Regions from separate parts of the Homo sapiens genome. Here regions 2, 3, 4 and 5 are each linked to region 1. The links come from fine-mapping of genetic effects on gene expression. A gene starts in region 1. Each other region holds a variant in brackets. All regions are shown on one strand. Distances are from middle to middle.

Region 1 (5,107 bases):
GAATTTTATCCATTTCAGAGGTGGTTGTCAGATTTAGGGCAAAGGACATATGTGGGCTTTATAAATTTTAAAGTTCGGTACAAATGTTTGTTGATACTCTTGTTTAATTAAATGTAAAATAGTTGAGAACCTTCCATGTACTTACTGATCACAGTGTTAACCATTATTACACAGTACTGTATTGCTCCAAGAATCAAAGGGCAGCAGCTCAAAGACAACACTTGGATGTGAATGAGATGAAGCTGATCAAGTCAGAAGGAAAAGGAATTCAGATGCCAGAGCTCCCAAGGTCTGAATAGTGGGCAGTTTCAAGACAACTCTAGTTTTCTCCTGATGGCTGAAATTATTAGCAGCCTAAGATCACTATCCTTTTCCTGGAATCAATGTGTTCGAAGGGTGCCAGAGTCATCTAGTGTGTTTACAAAGGATAAAAGTAAGAGGTGTGAGTATGAATGTTGTTGTTCCAAGAAATAATTGCTCCAGGGTGACTCCATGCTTTTATTAGTTTGCGTGTGTGTGTGTGTGTGTGTGTGTGTGTGTGTTTTGGTTTTTAAGTAACAAACTAACTCAAAGTAGCCTAAGCAGGATAAAGAGGGAATTTGTTATAAAGAAGCAATAGTGTTTGATAGAACCCAATGGCAGGAATGTGTATGGGCCTTGGGAGGAGCCTAGAGTCAGGAACTGAAAAAAGATGTGGATTCTTGCTCCGAATTTGCTTCTCGGCACACACCTGCATTCTTCTCTCTCTGCTTCTCTAATCAACATGGCAGTCTGTATCCTTAGTTAAAATATTTGTAGCATTAATTCCCCATTACTCAAATGACCATCATTTGAGGCTGTGGAGAAGGCATGTCCTTGTTGAGTGGAAGGAAGGGAAATTAGAACAACTTATATCTATGGGCTATTTTAAATGTAAGGTACTATGATTCTACCAACTTAGACTCCCATATACACAAGGATTCACTTCCATTCCACTTTCTGTCTCTGTTAATAGCACAATTTTTTTTGTCTTATTTATTGTAGTCCTTCATCTTTCATGTGGAGTCAATCACTAGGTCTTATTGGGTTTTGGTCTCAAAAGTCTATCATTAAATAATATTACTTTTCTTAGCAGCATAATTCACAATTGCAAAGATGTGGAACCAACCTAAGTGCCTGTCAACTAATGAGTGGATAAAGAAAATGTGATACACACACACACACACACACACACACACACCATGGAATACTACCCAGCCATAAAAAGGAGTGAAATAATGTCTTTTGCAGTAACTTGGATGGAGCTGGAGGCCATTATTCTAAGTGAAGTAACTCAGGAGTGGAAAACCAAAAACCGTATGTTCTCACTTAAGTGTGAGCTAAGCTATGAGTACACAAAGGTATACAGAGTGATATAATGGACTTTAGAGACTTAGAAGGCGGAGGGTGGGAAGGGACCTAGGGTTAAAAAACTACTTATTAAGTAAAATGTACGCAACTCAGGTGATGGGTGCACTAAAATCTCAGCTTTCACCACTATATAATTCATCTATGTAACAAAAACCCACTTGTAACCCAAAAGCTATTGAAATAAGAATCTTTTTAATAAAGAAAATGCCACACAAAAATAATATTGGTTTTCTTCTAATCCTGAAGGCCAATATAAAAGGTAACAAAAGCCTGAGCTCTTTAATTAATGGGTACAAGTTAAGACAGAATCACATCAGGATTTGAAGTTGAACCTGAGCTCAAATCCTGTTCCCATCACTGCTAGCTCTCTGAGGCTTTCCTCTCAACTACAAAGTGGAGATATAATACTAAACAAGCTTACTGGGTTGCTTAACTAATATCTAGAACATACTTAACAGTGTTTCTATTAATGCGAGAACTAACTGTAAGCACTTAGTAAAGAGTAGTCATTATTAAGCAATGATAAATAAAAGCATTTGTATAATTCTTTTTTTAGCTTTTGAAAGCCTTGCACCTAGATTTTCTCATCTAATATTCATTAAAACCCTGAAAGGCCGATCATATCCCCACTTTAGAGATGGGGACACCAAAAAACAAAGAGATGGGAACACCTAGATATATCAGAGATCCTAGTTTTTATTTTATTTATTTATTTATTTATTTTTTTTTTTTGAGACAGAGTGTCGCTCTGTTGCCCAAGCTGGAGTACAGTGACGCAACCTCGGTTCACTGCAAGCTCCGCCTCCCGGGTTCACGCCATTCTGCCTCAGCCTCCCGAGTGAGTAGCTGGGACCACAGGCGTCCGCCACCGCGCCCGGCTAATTTTTTTGTGTTTTTTTAGTAGAGACGGGGTTTCACCATGTTAGCCAGGATGGTCTCGATCTCCTGACCTCGTGATCCGCCCGCCTCGGCCTCCCATAGTGCTTGGATTACAGGCGTGAGCCACCGCGCCCGGCCTGATCCTAGCTTTTTGTAGGTGACTGACCTAGGTGGTACAAGATGTCCTGTACTTGTTCATTTATTCACACATACAACACATATTTATTGACTTCTTACCATAAACTGTTTAAGGAGCCTGGTGGGGATACCGCATAAACAAACAAGCAAAAATAGACAAAAATCTTTGTCTAGAAATATATAAATATAGAACATTTTATAGAATATATGACATAGAAAACAGAAAAAAATAAATATGAAAATAGCCTAATTTTCAGGGTTTTCCTTTTTTTACATACCCTTCATGGTTAACGGTTAGTGGTTAATGGGGATTACCCATTAACTCCCACCCTCCTTCCCAGCTCTCTCCCAAGACTTAGTTTCAGGAACTAGAAAATTCTGATTCAGCTTGGGTGCAATGGCCGCTCAAAGGGCGAGGCTTATTCGAAGCCTCAAATTCAGAAAACCCAGCCAGACCTTGGAAGTTAAGAAGGTGGAAGGCAGATCGCGGAACCAGTGTTCTGATAGTTGTGGTTCTCTGAGGGAAGCCAATTCTGGGGACCGGTAGTGGAAAGCTCTTGCGCTGTTTCCGGCCACCTCAGCGGGAAGCGGAGACGCAAGCAGCTGGATCTCCGGTAACTGAGACATAGGGTATAACTGTTGTCGCGGCGGAGGAAGTGAGGACGGCGCCAAGGGCCTTCCGGGCCAGTGTTGGATCCCTGTAGTTTGTGAAGATGGTGTTGCTAACAATGATCGCCCGAGTGGCGGACGGGCTCCCGCTGGCCGCCTCGATGCAGGAGGACGAACAGGTGAGCTGCTTACTCACGACCCGCGACCCCAAGTCTCTGTCAGCGCGCTTTGCCCTCAGCATCGGATTCCTTCCTAGGACCGGGAGACCTTTGTGACTTCCCGGGCACTCCCGACCTCTCTGAAGTGCGCTTTTATCTTTTGGTGTAGGAGAGACTACCGGCGAAGAGGAAATCTTTCCTGAAGGAGGAGTTAAGTTTTTTGTGTTAGCTGTTTCTCTTTAGAAAAACGCTCTGGAGAAGTGGTAGCTTTGGTTGATTGTGATCACCCAGTGTTCTTTGACTCTTTAGGGACTTTGTTAAAATTCAGGATTTCTAATTTTCTGCTGCTAATAGGACTGCTGATGGATAAATCCTGGGAAAAAATCAGCCAAGTTCTTCAAGTCTATAACGTGGCACCTGATCCTTGACCTAGCTTGCTGACATCTTTTGAAAGTGGGTGAGGTAATATTGCCACATAAAAGCACCTGTTAAATTTCAGTACATCACATTCTTTCAGGATTATCCCCAGTTCCCACCTTCTCCAATACGCCGTACCACATTCCTGCAATACATTGTAACTTATTTTTTTCTTTGTCTTTCAATAACTTGAGTTTCCTAGCGGGCAAACGACGGGTCTTAATCATCTCTTTGTTATCCATACCTTTTACAATAGCTGCTTTATGCTAGTAGGTGCTCAAAAGTATACTGAATTGATTAAAAACAGCACTAACTCCAGATGTCTTAAAAGAAAGATGTTTTGTGTTTTAGAAACACAGTGGAAATTTCTGAAGTAAGACAAGTTTCTGGAGCAAGCTTGGGAGGTTCTGAAGACAAAGCTGAGAATGGAATTTATATAATTTGTTTAAAGTGATCAATTTTATTTTACTTTTCCATACAGTCTAAGTAAAACCTTGAGCCTTAAAAAAAGATGAGATATTGAAAAAATAGTTTGCACATTTCTTCTGTTGGACTTTTCATTCATATATTAATGCAAAAAATTTTTACTGAGCACATCAAATGTGCCAGGCATAGTGTTAATGCAGGGAGTTAGAGTACACAGTCTCTACCTTTGTGGAGCTTACAGTCTAGTGGAAAAATCAGATAACCAACAAACTATTAAAATGTAGTTTAACTGCTAAGGAGAAGGAAGAGGGTTTTGTGCTTGAACATGGAAAATATATCTAAGTTGGTTTTAGGAAATCAGGAAAGTCTTCCCAGAAGGTATGACACTAAGGTAACAGTAGGATCCAGTAGTAAGGAACTATTATTCTATTTGGTTATATGCCTTTTTAGGTTTGATTTGGAAATATAGTTACTTTCACTTTTAGGAGAGTGGTGATACAGATAATAAAGTTGCAGGTCATGCTAAGTGAAATATATTCTATTCATTACATAAAAACAAAGTCTAATCTTTGAAATAAACCGTGAACAATTTAACATACCCCGATTTGCTAATGTGAAATGTTTTTCAGGAATACTCTAGGACCATCCTGCAGAAGGAGTGTAATTGTTCAAATGAACCTAGGAATATGATTTGAACAAAGTAGATAGTGCAGGGGAATATCCTTGAAGGATGTGTAGTTTGACTAAAAAATAGTTTTCCTACAGTGGGTGGCTGTGTGTTGGGGGTAGGGGGGATGGAATCTGGTCAATTTTTAAATTATTGCATTGAATTCCAGTGTTAGCAAAGAATACAAAGTGAACTTGAAAGTCTACTTAATATTAGTGGCCCCTACTCTCTGCCATGATACTTTATTGAAAAATTAATTGATTTATTGTTTTTTAATTATAAATTTGGTATTGGTTTCATATTGGTTTATCAAGATGGGATGCTTTGTTTAATTGACAAGGAAAGAAATTTTACACACAAATATTTTTGTGATTGTAGTGCCATAGTATTTTCCTTTAGGAATTTTGACTTTGAATAATAAAGT
Region 2 (5,107 bases), 800 kb before region 1:
AAAGACATCCTGCCTTTGGGTCTTTTAGAACAGGTATCCAGAGATTTTACTTCTCCAGTGCTAGACAGGGTCTATGCCCATAACATCAGCAGGAAGCAGTTACAGAAGATGAACCTCCACCCTTCTGCAAGCCCCTTAAGATTAAGGAGGAGTATATAATCTCTGATGGGGAAATGAGGTAGGAGACCAGAAGGACCATTGAACAGAGCAGGATCTGGTCAAAACAGGGTGCAGTGAAGAAGCCTGCTGAAACCAGCAGATGATGATGAAAGTGACCTCTAGTTGCTCTCACTGCTTATGAGCATAAAGACACTACCACTGGGACCATGGCCAGTTTACAAATGTCATGGCAACACACCTTGGCAATGGCCTGGAAGTTACTTTATATGGTTCTGGAAACTCCCTGCCCCTTTTCCAGGAAGTTCTGAATAACCTACCTCTTAATTGGCATGTAATTAAAAGTGGGTCTAAATACAACTAGCTAGCAGCCCACAGGCACCAACTCTGGGCACATTGCCTATGGGTTAGCCCTGCTCTGCAAGTAGCAGCACCAGTTCAATAAAAGTTGCTTGCTTTCACCAGCGGCTTGCCCTTGAATTCTTTCCTTGGCAAAGCCAAGGAAACTACAGTCTGGGAGAAATTTCTCAGGCTACAAACCAGTTTTGAGGCTCGCCTGCCCTGCGTCACTATCATTGTTTCCTTGGGTTTCCCAGGAATGTACATGTGTGAGACTGCTGCCCTGCTTATAGATCTGTTTCCCTGCAGGAAACAGGAGTATCTTGCCTGGGGCTTCCAGAGTTGGAGATACATGTAGTTTCACTACTGAGTGCTAACATTTAATTTTGGAATCAAGTGATGCATTCAGACTGGCTGCTATCATTCTGTGGTATACATGTAGTGAACACATTTGTGACTGAGTTTCCTGCTTTTAGCTGGAGCAAGAAAGTTTTGTAATTGTGATTTGTACAAAAAAATCATAGGCAAGAGAATGTGTGTAAAATAAACTTTATTGTCAGAGGTTTCTAAAGGCTTATCCTTCAAGGAAAGTGGACATATGCTGAAGAGCTGATAAACAGTCTACAGCAGTGTTATTCTAACTTAATCTTGATTCCAAGTCCTTGCCATTTTCCTCTAGCTGCTGTTGACTCCAGTTATATATAGGTTGGGGGAAAGGGGATTATTTATGGATCTAGGCATCATTGTCTCTTGGGCAGTTATCACATTTGCAGACTGAAGGGATGTGATTTCTACAATCAAACTGTCCATTTGGAATACAAATCTGGAGTGGCTATAAAATTTGCTTTTCAGAGATGGAGCTTTCAGATTTGGACTTTCAATTGTTCTGTTGTTTTAGTTTTTCTCATCAACTGGGGAACTGTTTGTGACTAAGCTTTGTTAAAAGTAGAGAAGAACTTTCCATAGTTCCAACATTAGTTGCTACTTGAAACAAACAAAAACACACACGCACATACAACGAAACAATAATCTTTGGTGAGGTCTTGCTGATACCTAACTGAGGCTAGAGTGAGAGCTAAGTGGTGATACAGGCCAGGTGCAAACTGAGTGCAGCTAAGTGGATAATCTCTGGTAGTGAACTACAGTCTAGAAGAAGATAGTAATAATAGATTGAAAAGAAAGTCTCCTGAAATGAACTAGCTGGCCTGTGGTGTAGGACACAGGACCCCAGCCACCTTATGGTTCTAAAAGCCTTGCTCAAAGCCGCTGCAGATGAGTTAGCTAGGTCTCTACCACATCCATAATACTCCTCTGGAGAGAAATAAAGGTCTTTCACACCTCCCAGGAAGGGATTTGCTTAGCCTCAAATGTGCACATTCAGAAATAGCTTGTCATAAGAAAGAGAGGATAGTTTGCAGAGAAATAACCCTTCTAAGTCCACATCCTATTCCTTTTAAATAAGAGAGTGGTGCCAAGGGAAGAGCCCTAGAATGTCAAAGCCAACAGGGTGCTCAGATACCACCCAAGTACAGTTCCATCTTTGGCCATAAGGAGACAATGGTGTCAAGAGGCTAAGGCCATATGATCTGTAGGTGAAAAACCCAGGATGAGAATCAAGGCCTCAAACCTTTTCCACTACATCACAGATTTAGGAGCAGTTAGAGGGAAGGCTTCAATCTGGAGAACACTAACAGGTTTTAGAGATTATTGGGTCATGGTGGCTGGGACAGAAATAAGGATTCACAGAAAGATGTTTATAGTCAATGTTCTTTTACAGTAAATGTTCTTTTGGGATTTTCCTTGATAAAAAGGCTGAGCAAAAGTGAAAAAAAAATTTCTTTCTTTCTTACTTTCTTTCTTTGTCTTTTTCTTTCTTTCTTTGTTTTTTTTTTTTTTGAGACAGTTTTGCTCTTGTTGCCCAGGCTGGAGTGCAATGGTACAATCTTGGCTCACCACAACCTCCACCCCCAGGGTTCAAGCAATTCTCCTGCCTCATCCTCCCAAGTAGCTGTGATTACAGGCAGGTACCACCACGCACAGCTAATTTAAAAAAAAATTTTTTTTTTTTTTATTTTTAGTAGAGACAGGGTTCCTCCATGTTGGTCCGGCTGGTCTCAAACTCCCGACCTCAGGTGATCCTCCCAAGGTGCTGGGATTACAGGTGCGAGCCACCACGCCTGGCCAAAATTAAAAATTTTCTAATTGCAATTCTGAACAACTTATGGGTTGTGAAATCAATATAGTGGACTGCTTACTACTACAGGCTTTATTTAAATACTAGGAAGGGTGGATTACACATAATAAAAGATTTTTTAAAAACTGATCACAAAGAATTGTGTATTTCTCACTGCATCTTGTGGTCAGAAAAGTTTGAGAAACTGCTCCACATAGGCAAATTATAGGTTCAATCTATCCGTCTACCTCTTTTTCTCTTCTCTTTTTTTCCATGCTATGCAAACAAGACCATGGAGAGAGGAAGGCAAATTCCATCAATGGGTGGGGTTAAGCCTTTTCTATGAGGTAGCTGCACATTTGGGACACTCCTATGCTGG[C/T]GACTTGACATTCTAGTAGATAGATTGTCCTTTTCATCTTTAGCTACATGTTAAAATTACTTGGGAGCATTTTAAGACTACTAGTGTCTTCCACCCACCTGGAAGCATTTAAATCAGAATCTCTATGTGTAGAGTCCAGGCACTTGTGTTAGTTAAAACCTTACTAGGCTTTATAATATGACAGAATGGTTTAAAGCTACTGAGTAGACCTACCCTATTTCCCACCATTTTCTTTCTTTCTCTTTCACCATAGGCTTCTTTCCCATGAGAAAGTAAAGATTTTAGTCTCTCTTTTCACAGTCCGAAGTAAATCACTATCTTTCTCAACTGGACTTCCAAGGCAAAGATTTCTCTCCATTTACCTATCTGGATTTTTACAAAGTTGGCCTCTGGATTCCCTTTTCCCAAAGCTAATTCACCACAAACGCACCCCTCAAGTCAAGGAGCTGGGCTTTCATACACCTGCACCTGTCAATCATGGGTAAATACTTTGCAGGCAGGGTTGCATGTGGGATTGACATAAACTACCAGGTATTGCCAGCTCTGAGCCTCAGGCAAGCTTGTGACTAAGTGACTCCAGTAGTCTGAGGACAGTCCTTACTCAGAAGGGTCTTTGGAAGCAAAAGCAAACATAGGCATGAGAGGGTAAAAAAAAAAAATCCCATGTGATTTTGGCTTATACCTAACAGAACTTGTGCAAGAATGGATATTAAGGTGGGTATTGTACACAGCAGAGCTTAGTAAATACCAAGTCTGCAGTTTAAGGGATAGGCTGAAGAGATTTTGCAGGTTTGTAAACATTTTTGCCAATTTGAACATACTTTTGTTTGCGTTTGGTTTTTCTCCTCAGTGGTAAGAGCTAGGCACGATAAGGTAGCTAGTATATTATAATTTCAATCAATAAATTTTTATTTTGCCAAGGACCAAGATGAACTACGACGATTTCAATTATTTAGTACTTTATTTTCATAAGTTTGAAAATTAGGACTTTTGCTCTTTTTTGGCTCACGGCATCTTTTTGGATTTCACACTTTCTCAAAGGCCAGTAACTTAGAATCTAAATTATGATTGCTTATTCTTTCAGTATTCTAGGGGAAAGTTGATTTAATCTTGACAAAATGTATTCAATTAAAATAATTGTTCTCTTAAATCTTTTCTGTCTTTCTTTTCTTTTTTTTTTTCTTTTTTTTTTTGAGATGGAATCATGCTCTGTCACTCAGGCTAGAATGCAGTGGCGCAAATTTGGCTCGCTGCAACGTCTGCCTCCTGGGTTGAAATGATTCTCCTGCCTCAGCCTCCTGAGTAGCTGGGACTACAGGTGCATGCCACCACGCCCAGCTAAGTTTTGTATTTTTATTAGAGATGGGGTTTCACCCTGTTGTTCTGTTAAATCTTTTCACCTTTTAAGTTTGTCCTTCTCTTCTCCAATTTGCAAGAGTGGGGTGTGGCTCGCACCGAAATACTGTATTTCTTAGAGCTACTTATTCCTGGAGCCTGGCAGTCTGGGGGCCTGGAGGGGGTGTGTCTAGAAAGCAGCCCTCTCTAAGTTGAGAATAGCTATGAGAATTGTGGGTTATAAGGTTTTGAGCAGCTCTGGCCTCCCCGTCCTCTTTTATTTCTACAGTGGAGTGTGGCAAGAGAAGGGACCCATCTGAGAGTGACTTCATATTGTGGCCTTTCACCACTTACCTCTGGAAATTTGATTCAGGCAAGTCGGGAGAGTCTCCGGTATTCTTCTCTGAGAACTCTGTTTTCATTATACAGCTGGACAATGGAATCTATGATTTGCCTGTAGAGGTTAGAGGTGCATCCTGTTCCAGGAAATTATTACAATTTATGCAAGTTATACACGTTTGCTTAAGAGAATGCTTTCTGCACATTTCATGTTCTTCCTCTCTATCTTAGCCTAGGGAGAAAACCGTGGAGGGCTGGAACGTTAGTGTGATGGGGTGGAAGCTTAATTTTCACATGATTCTCAACAAATGCCAGCACATCACATGTATTATCATGTCCAATGGCTGCAATATGAAGGAGGCTTTTCCAAAATAGTTACGGCTTTGGTATGGGAAGGGACCTGCTTATGGTTCTTCTGGCCCAGC
Region 3 (5,107 bases), 190 kb before region 1:
TTTTGGCTCTGCTTCAATCCTCACAGTCCAAGCTCACTGCAGTTAAATCTTCAGTCTCCAGCACTGCACTTGGGAAAGCGTCAAGGAGTTGAATGTATATGTAATTGGAGTGCCAGAAGAAGAGAACCGAGAGAGAGGGGCAGAACAGCTCATGAGGGGAAAACCCACTACATACAATCAAGAATACTGCAGACTCCTCATCGGAATCTATGTAAGTAAGAAAAAAATGGCCAGGAACTATAGAGCTGTTCTTTAAAGTACTTAAAAACATTTTTGCCAACCTAGAAGTCTTTAACCAGCAAAAATGTCTTCCAAAAAGAAAAAGACTTTTCAGAACAAATACTGAGCTGATTCATTATTAGCACATTTGCACTACATAAGTGTTAAAGAAAATTTCTTTAGTAAAAGAAATATAATACCAGAAGGAAAATTTGATCTATAAAAAAAGAAATTAAGAGTCCCAGAAATATATAAAAATTATGTAAAAATTTTTTGTTTTTTCTCCTTAAAAGATAATTGATTATTTAAAGCAAAAACAATAAAGTGTTATAGGATTTGTGGCACATGTTAAATGTATGCATTTGAAGTAAAATGTATGATAACGGTAGTGCAAAGACAGAAGAGAAAAACTGACTTCTCCTGCTGTACATTCTTTATACTCTACATAGAGCTGTGATAAGTTAAAGATGTGTATTGTAAACTCTAGATGAAATAAAAATTTAAAAAATAAAAATAAAATTAAGAAGCAAGATGGAACAAGTAGAAAACAAATGGAAAGATGGTGGATTTGATTTTAGTTTTATCAATAATTATATAAATTCAAATAATCTAAACCCCCAGAATTTTTAAAAATGGGAGATAAAAAAACAATAAATATTATGTATTATTTGTTATCATCATTATTTTATAAAGGGACAGGGCATAGATTTGGACAGAAATGGTAAGTTTTACAATAAGAAATGTTACCAGAATTGCATAACATTTCATGATGTTAGAAGGGTCAATTCAACAAGAAGACACAACAATACCAAATATTGCCCAACAATAGATCTTTAAAATATACAAAGAAGAAATATACAACAGAAAAAAGAAATGGATATATCCCGTTATTGTTGGAGATTGTAGATTCTAACCCATTTTTTTCAGTAACTAATAGAATGAGATAAGAAACCAGCAAAAGGATAGAAGAAAAACAATACTCTTAATCAGATTTACCTGATTGACTTTTCTAAAACAGTCCACTAAACAGCAATATAAAAGACATTGTTAGCAACTGCACATTTAAAACATTCACTAAAATTGATGATAATCTGGGCTATATAAACATGTCTCAGTACATTAAAAAGAATAGAAATCATACACAGTATGATCTCTAAGCACAACTAAATGAAACTAGAAATAAATAATTTCCAAATGTTCTGAAATGAAACAACACACTTCTAAAAATTCCTGAGTCAAGGAGGAAGTCACAGATGAACTTAGAAAGTATTTCAAAGAGAACAAAGATGAAAACAAAAACAGAATATATCACAATTTGTAGGATGCACTTAAAGTAGCCATTTGGGGAAATGTGATAGTATTACATGCTTATATTACAATGGGAAAAATTCTGAAATTTGTAAATTTCAAATCATTCATGATATGTCAAGTCTTCTCAACTTGTTTTTCTTAAGGACTGTTTTGGCCTTTATTGTGTAGTTTATAAGTTCCACAAAATGTATTGGGAATTTATTGGAATTTTGTCAAACGTATATAATTTTGTCAAACTCAAGCATAATATAAATATGTTTGAGAATTAACATTATTATAAAAGTGAGACATTTAACCTATGAACATAGTACATATCACCCCTCATTTTGATGTTATTATTGTACAAAAGTTTTATATTATTGTATATAAAGACTTCGTACACTATTTTTAAATTTATTCTTAAATTTTACACTTTTCATGAAATATGAAGTTAATCTTATAAATTATTATTTTTAACATTATTGCTGGTGTAAAGAAATACAATTCCTTTGGACAATGAATTTTGTATCTAGTAAACTCATTGAATTTGTTTATTAATTTAATTCATGTACAAATTTTTGGATTTTCTATTTAAATAATCATATTGAATGAAACTACTGCATTTTAATAGTTTCTCATTATTACATTTACATATTTACTCATCTTATTCCTAAACTCAAAGATAATATAGTTCACTCTTTAGTATAAGTACATTATAGATTTAGTGTAGTACAGGTACATTATGAAGTGTAATGTTTACTAAAGCTTTTCTGTAAAATCTTTCTCAGGCTAAGAACATTTTTTGTTTTTACTAGAATATAATAGTAACAAAACATATTCTAGAAAAGCGTAAAATTTACCAAATATTTAGATTTTTA[A/T]TTTAAGCATCATGGAGAGAAATGACGCTCTCATGGTTGAAATGCAGAGGCTGGAGGCACAGATGTTCTTAGAGCTGCTATATTGTTTGAATCAACAGTGACGTATATAAGCAAAATTCCACAAAACCACAGATTTAACTGCCATTATTATTCAGAAGTATCTGGTGTTACTTCTGGTGTAACAAATGGACTATTGTTAGGATAAAGAATATCCATATGAAAAAGTGCTTTACATAAAGTAGAAACTTAAATAGTAACATAATCTGGGTACAATCCAACAATAATAATTAGAGCTTTGCTTTCCTGGAATACTATGTGCTAACCCTATTCTAAGGGATTTAGATAGAGATTTCACTGATTTCAAGAGAAACGTTTGTCTACTTGTTCAAATTTTAGTATCTGAAACTGCAATGTATCTTACATTAGATAAGCATAACTTAATTTCAGCATTATTTAATATTAGTGCATTAAAAAGTGTATGTCATTACCAATGGCATTTTAGATTTAGTGACATTTTGTATAATTTCATGAAACACTAGACACTATGGAATCAACTATAGTGTAAGGTCTACAAAAGCAGGAAATTCTATTTTAGTTACTCTTATAGGAGTCACTTGATAAATATATGTTGAATGAGTTGTCCAATGAAATAAATAAAGGCACAGCATTCTAGCATCATTCGGGGGGCAGTAGTTCATCCTGTGGCCTCATAACACTTGAGCAATGATGTGGACATCACTTGGAAATGCTCAATTTAATCAGGTATGTTCATAATGAGGGCTTCTCATTTTTCTGTGAAAATACTAAAATATACTGTCTTTAGGGAGGAAGCAAACAATGTAATAAAATATAGAAAAATAGTTAAGCATGATTCAAATTAAAAGCCCTGGAATTTATAAAAATAAGCTTCATTTGTTAGGGAAAAAATTACATTGTGTAACACTCTATTCCCCATGATTCCTAGTAAATAAGACAATAAACCCTTTAAGAAGAACTTTGTCAGAAACAAAGGATCACTATTTCCCGAAGAGCTGCAAAATACCATAGGCCAGAATTAATACAGGTGATAACTGAGGTCTTAAAAGCCATTTAGACAAGTTGAGTTGACAATGATCTAAGAAGGGCCAGGCCACTCTCCTGTGCCCCCTCCCTAAGCAGCTGCGCATTGCTTTGCTTTGACAACCTCCTTCCCATGCACCCCATCCCACACCCACAGCCCTGCTTGGAACTCTCCTAAGTTCCAGACTCACGTACTCAGCTGCCTCCTAGAGCCCTCTACCTGGAGACGTCCAGAACACTTTGAGTTCAGTATGCTCACAAGTGAAGTCATAAAGAGCCAAGAGTGCAGGATTGGGGTCAGGCAGCCCCACTTCTTAGTTATGCGTAGACTTCTTAGTTTACTTGACCCTCTTCATTTTCAGATTTCATTTCTGTAAAATAGCAATGGGCTTTGTAGAATTGCTTTTAGAGTATTGTAAGATAACTTAGGTAATACCTCTAACAAAGAGTCAAACAGATATTGGACATATAACCAATGTCTGGTACCGGCTTTCCCCTCCTTTCACAAGCTTAATGGCAATGCAGTTAAGTCAAGGACCTGGATCAGAATTACGGCATGAGGAACACACTCCATGTTTGTGCACACCCATTCCTGGATGACTTTTCAAGGGTCTTCTCTTTTCTTCCACCTGACAACAAGTTCTCCAACTTCCCTACTTGGAAGTGGCTGCCTGCCATGAGATAATCCCCTTTCTAATTTGTCCTCCCATGAACAATGCACCCAAGGAGTCCTTCCTCTTACTCCATGTCTCCTTGAGCCTGCAGAATGGAGCTCAAGTTTGCTAGAGCAGCCACGGTTCCCGCACCACCTCCCCTTCTGCCTTGCGGGCTGCCAAGCCTGCGTCCACCGTGCGCATGAACTCCAGCATCAGGAAGTTTCCTGCGTGTGCCCCGTGCTCCTATCTGGGCTCACGTGAACGTGCTCTTCTCTCTTTCTGAAATGCCCCTTTCCTTCGAGCGATTGTGGAAATCCTCCTCATCTTTTACAACTAGTCTCAGATGCACCCTCCTTCCCGAAGCCTCCTCCGAATGGCCTGTCTACACATGGCCCAAACTTGGTTTCAGATCATTAAAATAGAAGGACAAAAATGAATGGTGTGCAGGGAACACACAGACAGCCTGTGGCATGGTTGGAAGCTGTGGTCTGATCTATGGCGAGTCCTGAGACCACGACTGTTCTTTGATTTTTGCTGCAGCCCTGAGAACCCTGTGGGTCTGCTCAGGCATCTTGCTGCTCTTGCGATCGAGCCCTTTGTTTCTCTGCCTATCTTGTTTCCTGCTTTTCACTTTCTTGTTCTCACCTGGCTGATTTGTAAATAATAAAGTAACCGAAGTTAGACAATTCCAGCTACTTAAGATAACTGTGTTTCCAGGGAATCTGTTTCATGTGTAGAGAGGAAAAAATAAGTAGTCACAATCCTGGATTTTCTATGTGAATCAGTTTGCTTAGAGAGCAGCAGCTGTTAAAATATACATGTGATATTTGAGTTCAAACGGGAGCAGAAATTATACTTAGTGTGGGCCAAAGAAAGGCATTTCAACGACAGGGCTCTTTCATCTGGAGTGGCGTGCCTAATTCTGATTTAGAGAAAAGCAGGTCTGATCTTGTGCGGTGGAAAAGGAGGCCTGGGGCTGGGCATCAGAAAATCAGCTTTCAGACA
Region 4 (5,107 bases), 190 kb after region 1:
TCTCCTGTAATAACACTTACCACGTTTGTATTGATATTATTATATGCTTGATGTGAGGGATGTACCGAGTTATGGGGGCGGTTGGACTATTGATGACAGCAGTTACTAGCACTCCTTACAGACCTTTGTTCTCAGTAGCATGTAGCTGAGCTATTTACCATCCCAGCCCCTATCCTATTGTAAAGAGAAAAACAGAAGGAAAATTTTGTGTCATAGGGCTTCTGTTTCTACTGATATTAGATGTATAAATTCAGATTAGTCTTTTCTGTGTTACACAAATTAAAGAAGTGAATGGAGCAGGAATCTAGTAGGAGTTAACTAATGTTTATTAGCATCCAAATACTGTGCTAATTACAATGTTTTATCTGTGTAATCTTTGCAATAACTGTATTAGAGATAGAGTTTAAATATCCTTTTTTCAGATGATGATGCGTATTCAAAAGGGTTAAATAATTTGCCCAAGACCCGTAGTGGTTGGGTTAGGGTTTGAATCTAGGCTTGTTGAACTCCAAATCTTTGCTCAAATCTGTAGTCTTTTTTCTATATAAAATTGATTTTGTAAATTATCTTGTTTTATTTTAAGAACTTGGGGTGTTTTTTAATAGACTGAAAATTTCATTATCCTGAGATTTGGTGATTTACTCCATGTGTTTTCCCTTTTTAAGAACCTAGCTGGTTATTTTGAGGTTAGAAGTTAACATTATGTGTATGCTTTAGATTCAGTCTGATGCTTTTTCACTATACCTAATAGCCTATTGCAACTTTGTTCAGAATTCCTTTTACAATTTCCACCTGTAGACTTGAAGCATTAACTATTTGGTCTGGCTTTTGACAAAATGAAAAAGGAGGGGTTGGAGTAGTGAGGTGAGAAAATGAAGGAAATGAAGTTGCCAGCTATTTGAAAAAGAATGGATAAGACTATATGGCTGAAAAAAGATAGGCATTAATTTTAAATAAATGGAGATTTGGAAATTTGCCATGCTTTTAATGAGAAGAACCTGATAGTTACGGCTTTGTTTTGTAACTACATATACATAAAAGGCTTGGTGTTTTGTAGCAAGTTCTACACTTCAAGATGAGCATAAATTCCAGCTCTATTCATGGTTTGATTTAGGGTAAATTTGTCAGCCTCCTTTTCTCAGAAGCCTTCATTTGCTATTATCTCTTTCTTGGGATATTGAAACAATCAAAAATGCAATAAAAAGTTTATTTTTTCATTTGTTCTGCCAACAGCTATTATGCTAAACATTCTAAATTCATCCTATTCTATATGGTGGCCCCTGGTTTCATCTTGCTATTGAGCATCTGAAATATGGCTAATGTGAATTGAGATGTGTTGTAATTGTCAAATAACTGATTTTGAAGACTTAGTATGGCCGGGCACAGTGGCTCATGCCTCTAATCCCAGCACTTTGGGAAACTGAGATGAATGGATCTCTTGGGCCCAGGAGTTTGAGAACAGCCTGCGTAACATGGCAAAACCCTGTCTCTACAAAAAATACAAAATTAGCTGGGTGTGGTGGCGTGCACCTGTAGTCCTGGTCACTTGGGAGGCTAATCACGCCACTGCACATTCCACCCTAGGGGACAGAGTGAGACCAAGAACCTGTCTCAAAAAAAAAAAAAGAACTTCATATGGAAAAAAAGATATCTTTTTAATAATGTTTAAATATTGATTAGATGCTGAAATAATACATTTTGGTACATTGAATTAAATATAACATAATATTAAAATTAATTTCCCCTATTCCTTTTTACCATTAAATATTTTAGTAGCCACTGGAAAATTTGAAATTATATCTGTTACTCTCATTATATTTCAGTTGGACAGCATTACTTCAGATGCAAAGATGGTCTGTAGGTATTACCATTGCTGCTGCTTTGTAGAAGCATCTGTTCTAGCCCTGAAGTAGAGGAATAGATGGTTTCCCCATGGCCTGTGGGCAGAACTGTGTTATATACCCCACTA[C/A]AGGCGTTTTTACCTACTGTGGCTGTCTAATTAGTGTTTGTTTGTGCCTTCAAAAACTACCACTCTTGTGGACTAGCTTAAGCTCAGATGGAAAAAAGAAATTGGTCTTAGGGAGTGGGTGTGGGGAGATGATTTACTTCTTTATAGGGAAGTGTCTTATAGGGATAAGCCTGAATACTGGATATTCCTTTAGGAAATAGAAGTAGACCTGATGGTTGGATGAAGATAGAGCACAAACGTCTTTATTATACTGTATTTGGCCTCAGGCCATCTTATCAGAGAAGTTCTGCTCTGGCAGATATCCATTTAAGGAAAAAAGGGTTTTAAAGGGCCCAAAATTTATTAGAGCAGTGTAGATTAATGTTTTGTCTACATAGACTGTTATTTGAATTTTCTTTTTAAAGGTTCATTTCCTTCAGAATTAAAGTTGACCCTAAGCTCAACTCACAAATTCCTCTCTGTGGCTGCTTTTGACTTTGGGCTCACTTCTGGGGCAGATGTGATTTATTTTCTTGTGCTTGTTATTAATCCAGAAATATAATTTCAGCATGGGCTTGGAATAGTGCTCTGGGACATGAAGCAGAAGTGAACAATGGAAGTTAGGTGGATATGAGTCAAAGAAAACTGACCACACTTTCTCTCAGCTCTCCTTTACAGCATGATGAGCCTCAAGAGCTGGGGGAGGTTTTCATTGCTGTCAGTGCTCCCAATTCAGTAAAAATGTTTGATGTGAGTTGGCAAGTACATTTGCCAGAGGTGGTGCATGAGCTCCTTGTGTCTGGGAATGGAGATTTTCATGATGGTGCTTTTATTTTGAGCTAGATCTTCCTGTCTCAGTCTAGCCTCTAGCTGGTGATGAATTATTCTCTAGAGTAAGGCTTTTCTCACAACCATTTTTCTACTTTTTTTTTTTTAGGACTATAGGGATGGAGGTTTTTTGATTGAGAGAGAATACTACTTAATTATATATGGTATTTCAAAGCTGCTCTCTTTTATATTCTACATGGAGGAATGGGAAAATATGTCTCACATTTCAATTTTTCTGCTGTAAGCCTGATTGTGAGAAGTATAATAAGCCTGTTTTCTGAATTCTACCTCCTCACCCCAAATTCGGTTTCCTATCAGTTGGGCAGACTGCCACAGTGCTAACCTGAAGCACCCTTGCCCCAGATGTCCCAGAGTTGATTAGTGGCGCTGTTGGTGGAAACAAGGACGAGTGGATAGTCTAGCCCCACATGCAGGAGGTGAGACTGCAGGCAGGATCTTTCCTGCCCTGCAGTCCATGACTCAGGGTGTAGCCTTGGCTATGTTACAGGCACGATCCAGTTTAACTTCATGGCTCTCTAAGCCCCCATGGAACGGTTGTTAGTAGGTTCAATAATTTATCTATTGGACCTACTTACAGATATTTATTGAACAACTACTACATGGAATATATTATGCTAGATACTGTAAGAGACACAAAGAAAAAATTCCTATTTTAAGAGTGGTAAAATTGACTAGGAAGACATAAGAAAGTCCACACATAACCACACTAGGAAGCAGAAGGTGTGTGTGAATGTGAATTTGAAAGAAACAATGGTGGGAATGGGGAAGCATCTAAGTACTTGGTGGGGTAAGGAAGGTGATCGAGAAGAGTGAACTTCTGTTTTGAGTCTGAGTAATGGATGGGAACTGTTGACAGAGAAGGAGAAATAGGGTAGAAATGATGGTAAGTTGGAGATGAGTTTTCCAAGTGAAAAACATGCAGCAGTAAGACCCAGGAGCTCAGAATACAGGCAGGGACGAGAGACTCAGGGTTACCATGGAATGTGTCAAGTCTGTGAGGGAAATTGGATGGAGTGATAAGAACAGAGGATTTGGACCCGAAGTATGAGAAACATCCACACTTCAGAAAATTGACGAGGAAGGGGATCCAAAGAAGGAAAGTGAGAAAAGGGGAGGTTTGAGAGGTGGGAAGAGAGCTCGGCCATGATAGCATCCTCAAGTTAAAGGGTACAGCCTTAGAAGCTTGCCCTGAACTCAACTCCACATGCCTTGGTGGCAGCTCCTGTAATATTTTACTTCTCTTACTGCGTTATTTGTTCAGCTTGCCTAAGAGACTATCAGCCTCTGGAAGGCAGGAAACTGCTCTTACTTATTTTGACATTCCCAGAACTGATTTTAACAAACCATGGTTATTAATAACTGACAACCAGGAGACTCAAATATAAATGATAACTGCAAAATATTCATTAGAATATTTGAGTCATTAGAAATTTTCTGAAATACAGTTTTAATACAGACAAGACTAAGAAGCTAGATTGAGGAAGTTAAAGGAAAAAGTAGGCTTTGGGGAGAAGGAAGGGGCAAAATGGGTTTAGATCACTATGTAAGATTTTGCACAACTGAAAAGGAAGAGCGAGGGAGACACAACGCAGGGTTATGGGAGACAGAAACTTTATTCATCTCATTGACCATAGAGCTTGGCTACACTAAGAGTAAGGCAGCTCAAAGGGCGTTGGCTAATGAAGTGGATTATTGGGAGGGGTTTACTCTTACAGTTTTTAGTGGGGAATACTTTAGGTAAGATGTCTGCTGGGAATGGGAAAGGAAGAAGATGGGAAAGTTATAGTCAGAGAGTGGAAGTACCAAGTTTGAGATCTTGGACTAGAACAATGAGTGTCTTGTAACAGAGGTGTAGAATGTGAGCGTGCTTGTGATATGGAATGGATGCGGAGGTCTGTAAGGTTGAGAAAAGTAAGAACTCTTGACTCAGATGACCTTACTGGTCCTCAACCCAGATGTTGATATCATGCGAGACAGGAGAGGAAAGAGCGAGAACATAAGCCACATGCTTGTCATTCTAGGAAGAGGAAATTGGTCCACGAGAACGACAGACCATGGTGTGATAATTTATATTATACTATGTCTTTTTTTTAATTTTTAAAGGACTTCAATTCATCTATCTACTTTTAATGTCAGAAATTAGAATGTATTTATTGATTTCTTTCTCTCGAAGATGAGGAATTAGCATACTTCTCATAGCTTTCACTCACTCACTAGACTTTGTATAAATAATCTGGGTTTCAATATTTATATTATTGTTATCAAATTTATAAACATATACATATTCTTTAAAATTATTCTTGATATTTA
Region 5 (5,107 bases), 23 kb after region 1:
GAAGCTAAAATGTTTCTCTCATTTACTCCTTAAACAAAAGACTTAAATTAGTTTGGGTCATTATTACTTTTATTTTGCAGCATTTGGTTTGTTATTAGCGTAAGAGCAAGTATAGGATATGGAGAGGCCCCTGGCTTCATGAGAACAAAGGCAGGCCCAGGTTATAATTACAGCTTTCTCCTGCCCCTTCTTTACTTTCTCTACCACAGTTTTCTCCACTGTTTGTTTTCCTCTTGCCACAATTTGCTAACATTTAAAAAATTTTCCTGCACCCAGTAGTTTCATATCCTGTAGACATCCTCTTAGGACATTCTCAAATTTCAAAATAAAAAATATTCATCTATGTAGTTAATTAAAGTTAAAGTTTTTGCAGATCAACTACTCAAACTACTAAATACATTTACCTGAGAAAAAGTCTCTGAGAGCACTTCATTCCTGTTTTAGTTCGTGTAAATTCTCTGAGAATGTTCTGGAGATAGATAACTCATTTACAGTGGTTTCTATTAACTAATTAAAGTACCCATGATTTTTTCCTTTTCTGCTCAGGGATGATGGAGATTTCCTTTTACCTTCTGAGGTAGAATTTTTTAATGGGGAAAATAGGCCTTTTAAATATTATTGCCAGGGTCTGCAATATAACTTAAAATTCCTGTACATACTGCAAATATTTCTTTAAATTGCACAGGAAAATGAGCGAACTTTTTATTTCTTAATATCTTTGGCAAAAAACTTTAACCAGTAAGCAATTTTATAACCCTGAGGGATCATCAAAGATACTATCCTGATTCCTGGTAAGGAAAAATATATTATTTCCTTATAACAAGGCAAGGAGAAATGCTATTTTATTCCTGATAATTTATATAACTAGAATAATTTTTTTCCTTTCTTTTATGGACCTAAATCTGCCAATTGGGAATTTTGTGCATGAAATATGAAGTTACTTTTTATAGATAATCAGTGCTTTTAAGTCCCTAAAAGGCTCCTGCTGAAGTAATGATGATGTTAATAATAAAAGCCTTTGAAAGGCTGAAAACCTACATAGTGGTACCATAGTATTTGGAGCTTCTATAGGAGTGGAGAGGGGCAGCTCATTGTTGAGAGTTGCATGCTGCAACCTAATGGTCAGCAATGAAATAAATACTTGTAGAATGTTCACTTCAGTGTGAAGTTTTGTTATCTAGTTAATTTATATACATATATCCTTTGTAGATACATTTCTATCTAATCTTGTTGGGCTAATTAAGAAATAAGGGGTGGGGTAATTGTCAACAAAGGGAGAAGAAAGTGGTTTAAGATCAGGGCAGCAGAAAAATTAGAGAACAAGAATATCATAATATGGCTCCTGGTTTTCTTTATAAGAGGCAGTGGGAAGATCTGACTAGATGAAATGTATCATCAACCAAACTGGCATCTAAAATAGAATGGGATAAATACTGTATGGGGTTATTGGAGGCATATTAAGAAAGGACACCTAATTTATTTTGGGAAGAAGTATGTTAAGAGAAGACTTTCTAGAGAAGGAGAATGGGGCATTCTAGGAAGAGTCAATGGCATGTGCAAAGGCATGAATAAAGACAGTGAGGCATATTTTGGAAATGTAACAGCTTGATTCAGCTTAGCCCATAGGGTAAGCATAGACAACAGAGGAGACTTGAGGAATGAGAACTAGATGGGTACACTATCATAAAGGGACTTGTCTATCATGCTGAGGAGTTTAGACCATCTTAATGGTAGTGGCCAAGGATGGCATCAGATTTATAGTTTCAAGTGATCATAATATTGGCATAAAAGATATATTAGGGAGGAAGCCTGAAGTAGGGAGATGAAAATAAGGAGCCATCAAAGGCAGAATGAAACTTAGGCAGATTTCAAGTGATTTTCAAAAATGTTGTGATCAGAGGTACCAGATAATAACTATTACATAACACTTTCTTTGTTAGGAGCTTATTTCTCACACTGACCAAAGCTTTTGAAGTAAGTACTCTTTACACCACTATATAAATAAACCTTACAAAGGATTCTG[C/T]TTTGAGGCATGAGAGAGTTAAGTCATTTGCCCAAAGTCACAGAGTTAGAAAGTAATAGAGCTAAGATTTGAACCTAGGCAGTTTGGCTCCAGAGTCTGTGCTCTTACGCTATATTACCACCAAGAGGTCAAATAAATACCAAAGAATGTATTTTCGAATTTAACAATGAGGAACTTAATCATACAGGCAGAAGTAATTCCAGAGCACTGGAGACAGAAGCCAGATTGCCATATGGGTTAAAGAGTGTGTAAACCACTAGGAAGTAAAGACATAGAACTACTCTCACAAGTGCTTTTCTGGTTATTGTGACGCTGAACTTCATGGCTTGTTTTAATTAAGACATCTTACAAGTGTCAAAATTTGGAAATATTTGGACACTGTACACTCTGGTTATTTAAATATCTAACAATGGTTCTTGAGCATTTTGAGAAACCTTTGAAAATCTGATGAAAGGTATGTGCCATTACTCTAGAAAAATGTTCCTGTGTACATGCACATCAAGTATCACATACTGTTTCAGGCTGTTCAAAGACTACAAAGTCTGTTCATGACCTAATGGTCCATGTTCCCTCAGTTAAGAGCTCCAGAGATAAAGGATGTGGAACTCAAAGGTAAGTACCCAGAGCCTTGAAAACTCCATCTGTGACTTGGAAGAATTCTACAATTTGAATTAACTTTGTGGAGAGAGATATATTTTTGAAAAATTGTGTGTACCAAAAAAATTTCATATCAAATAATATTTTCCTGTAGTGCATTCAAGGATCTGGTTCCACAGCAAAAAATTGTTTTGGTCTCAGTTCCTCAAAATCACATTTAAGGAGCTTGAGATTTATATTTTCTACTTAATAAGTCTTACAAAAGCAAGTTAAGAAGGAAAATGGACAATCATTTCTGCACATATAGGGTTTAATAAAACATGTATAATAAAATATCTCATATTTTAAATTTCCACCTTATTGGTAGCTTTCATGACAAAGGGCTAGGGTGCTGATGGCCATACAATTAAGGTTTTTGGTTAGTTAGTTAGCAGAACTAACTGACTCCTACCTGGTGGGTTTTTCTTTTGTTTGGTTGGTTGGTTGGTTGGTTTTTTCCCAGATGGCTCAGGAGGAAGGTAAATAGCAGTCATTGTATGTGTGACAGAGTTTGAGATAGAATGAGCATATTGAATCTCACATCCTATTCTTATTACTGTCAGGCAGCGTTGACCTAGCAGTATAAAACTATCTGAAGCAATGTAGTCACTCAGTTCTCATAAAGTTTATTTCAAGTACTGTAACAATTCATGTTTGGATTAGAAAAGTCACTAGAAATTTGACTTCCATATAGTAATCTATACTTTTTTCTCTCATTTCCTTCATTTTTTGAGCCGTAAGTGTAAGGCATTTTGCTGGTATTATTACAATGGTTATGAGGAGTTTCTTTGCTTGCCCAAGGTCACATAGCTAGCAAGTTAAAGTAGATTCAAATCCAGGCCTGCTAGATACCAAATTATTATTTAAGAGTACTTTTCACTACTCCTAAATAATGACACAGATACGTTTGTCTTACACATTTCACTTTATTGTCAAGTTATTAGTATGTTTATTTTCAAAAGTTATTTTTTGCAATTTCTTTTTATTATTCCGTACTTTTTAAATTTACTTCATTATCACGTCTTCCTTTATTCTTTTTAAATAGTTTTTGCTTTTGTTATTTTGTTTTCCCTTTTTTACTCTTGGTTTGTAATACCTCTTTCCTTATTTGCTCCTTTCTCATTTGATCTCAATGTTAATCCAACTGTTTTCCACATCTGATTCACTAAAATTTTAGCCCTTAAAAAAAAAATTCCTGTTTTTCCTATCTCCTTTTGTCCATTCTCTTCTCCTTGCCTCACTTCTTTTATCTTTTTCCATTTTACTTTCATTTTTTGTTTCTCTAGATGTTGTTTTGACATATGAGTTAATGTACTGGTACAATTTTGCATCTGTAAATTAGAGCTTCAGAATCAACTGAGTGTATTTATTCTTTATTTTTAGGCCTAAATTTATCTTACCTTTTATTGATTTTATAATATACTATACTCTTTCATTTTAGTCTGCATATGTTAGCCAAAGAAGATATGCCCCTGTTTTAAGAAATCTCTGTAAAAAATGTCAAGTGTGACAAGAATTCTTCAAGAAACAAGCTCCTCTAGTTTGTCTTCTATATTTAGAGCTTCAACAGTTACCTATATTACTGGTAACTCCCAAATATACCTTCAAACTTGTTTTTTGGGCCCAAGTTTTTTGCTTCATATATATCTGTTTTGAATATCCCATAAATAATTGCATCTAAAGCATACCTCCACTCCATTGTTCTCAAAGATAAAACCAAACCTGTGCTGCTTCTTATATTTCTAGTATTTAAGCGTCACCTGCCACCCCTTTACCTGAGCTACAAGTCACGCATTGCATTAGACTCCTCTGCTTTCTTCTTTCACCTCTAACTAGACTATTAACCAAAAATTTTTTAATATAACTTTCAAAAGGTATTTTATTACATCATTTCCATCCTTTATGTTTGGGTTCAAGCCCTCATTAACTTTAACATGGATTCTTGGAGTACCCTCCTTACTGATTTTGTTACACATGTCCCTCTTTTAGTCAGTACTACCATGATAATACCATGGATAATAATTTTTTCATTTTTATTTTTAGTCTTGCTCTGTCGCCGAGGCTAGAGTGCAGTGGCGCGATCTCAGCTCACTGCAACCTCCACCTCCCGGGTTCAAGTGATTCTCCTGCCTCAGCCTACTGAGTAGCTGGGATTACAGGCACCTGCCACAGCTCCTGGCTAATTTTTGTATTTTTAGTAGAGATGGAGTTTCACCGTCTTGAACTCCTGACCTCATGATCCACCCTCCTCGGCCTCCCAAAGTGCTGGGATTACAGGCATGGGCCACTGCGCCCGGCCAATAATTTTTGTGTGTGTGTGTGCTAATCATACTACATTTTCTTTAGAATAAAAGATCACATACTTGTTTGCCATTCGCAGTCTGGCCCCATTGTGCCATTCTAGACTTACCTCCTGCCACTCCCCACCAGCTTTGTTTTGTCTTAGCC

Direction of the effects. Positions count from the first base shown, and alleles are read on the strand shown. Sizes are in standard deviations (SD) of each study's normalised expression. Not every link is listed here.
As copies of T replace C in region 2, the expression in whole blood of the gene that starts at base 2,981 in region 1 goes up (large effect, 0.95 SD a copy in GTEx).
As copies of A replace C in region 4, the expression in whole blood of the gene that starts at base 2,981 in region 1 goes up (large effect, 1.3 SD a copy in Lepik 2017).

The links. PIP is the estimated chance that this variant, and not a neighbour inherited with it, causes the effect. A credible set is the group of variants that fine-mapping cannot tell apart.
Region 2: its variant is the best candidate, but not a certain one, in a credible set for the expression of SEC22B in whole blood (GTEx, PIP 0.70).
Region 3: its variant is the best candidate, but not a certain one, in a credible set for the expression of SEC22B in esophagus muscle (GTEx, PIP 0.70).
Region 4: its variant is the best candidate, but not a certain one, in a credible set for the expression of SEC22B in whole blood (Lepik 2017, PIP 0.66).
Region 5: its variant is the best candidate, but not a certain one, in a credible set for the expression of SEC22B in whole blood (TOPMed, PIP 0.56).

The regions. Positions count from the first base shown.
Region 1 is chr1:120,174,394-120,179,500 of GRCh38, reverse strand. It overlaps SEC22B (SEC22 homolog B, vesicle trafficking protein), which reads left to right and starts at 2,981. Exons shown (of 5, transcript NM_004892.6): 1 at 2,981-3,194. The coding sequence starts at 3,120. RefSeq lists enhancers at 2,820-2,949, 2,728-3,293, 2,990-3,359, 3,294-3,859.
Region 2 is chr1:120,977,165-120,982,271 of GRCh38, reverse strand. No RefSeq gene overlaps it. Among named protein-coding and RNA genes, the nearest start is that of RNVU1-4, 37 kb to the right of the region's middle. The variant C/T (reference allele first, on the strand shown) is at 3,009.
Region 3 is chr1:120,359,890-120,364,996 of GRCh38, reverse strand. No RefSeq gene overlaps it. Among named protein-coding and RNA genes, the nearest start is that of NBPF8, 53 kb to the left of the region's middle. RefSeq lists an enhancer at 4,231-4,792. The variant A/T (reference allele first, on the strand shown) is at 2,388.
Region 4 is chr1:119,979,720-119,984,826 of GRCh38, reverse strand. The region is part of intron 5 of NOTCH2 (notch receptor 2); the gene reads left to right. Among named protein-coding and RNA genes, the nearest start is that of ADAM30, 86 kb to the right of the region's middle. The variant C/A (reference allele first, on the strand shown) is at 1,970.
Region 5 is chr1:120,151,252-120,156,358 of GRCh38, reverse strand. It overlaps SEC22B (SEC22 homolog B, vesicle trafficking protein), which reads left to right. Exons shown (of 5, transcript NM_004892.6): 5 at 1-5,107. Among named protein-coding and RNA genes, the nearest start is that of SEC22B, 23 kb to the left of the region's middle. The variant C/T (reference allele first, on the strand shown) is at 2,024.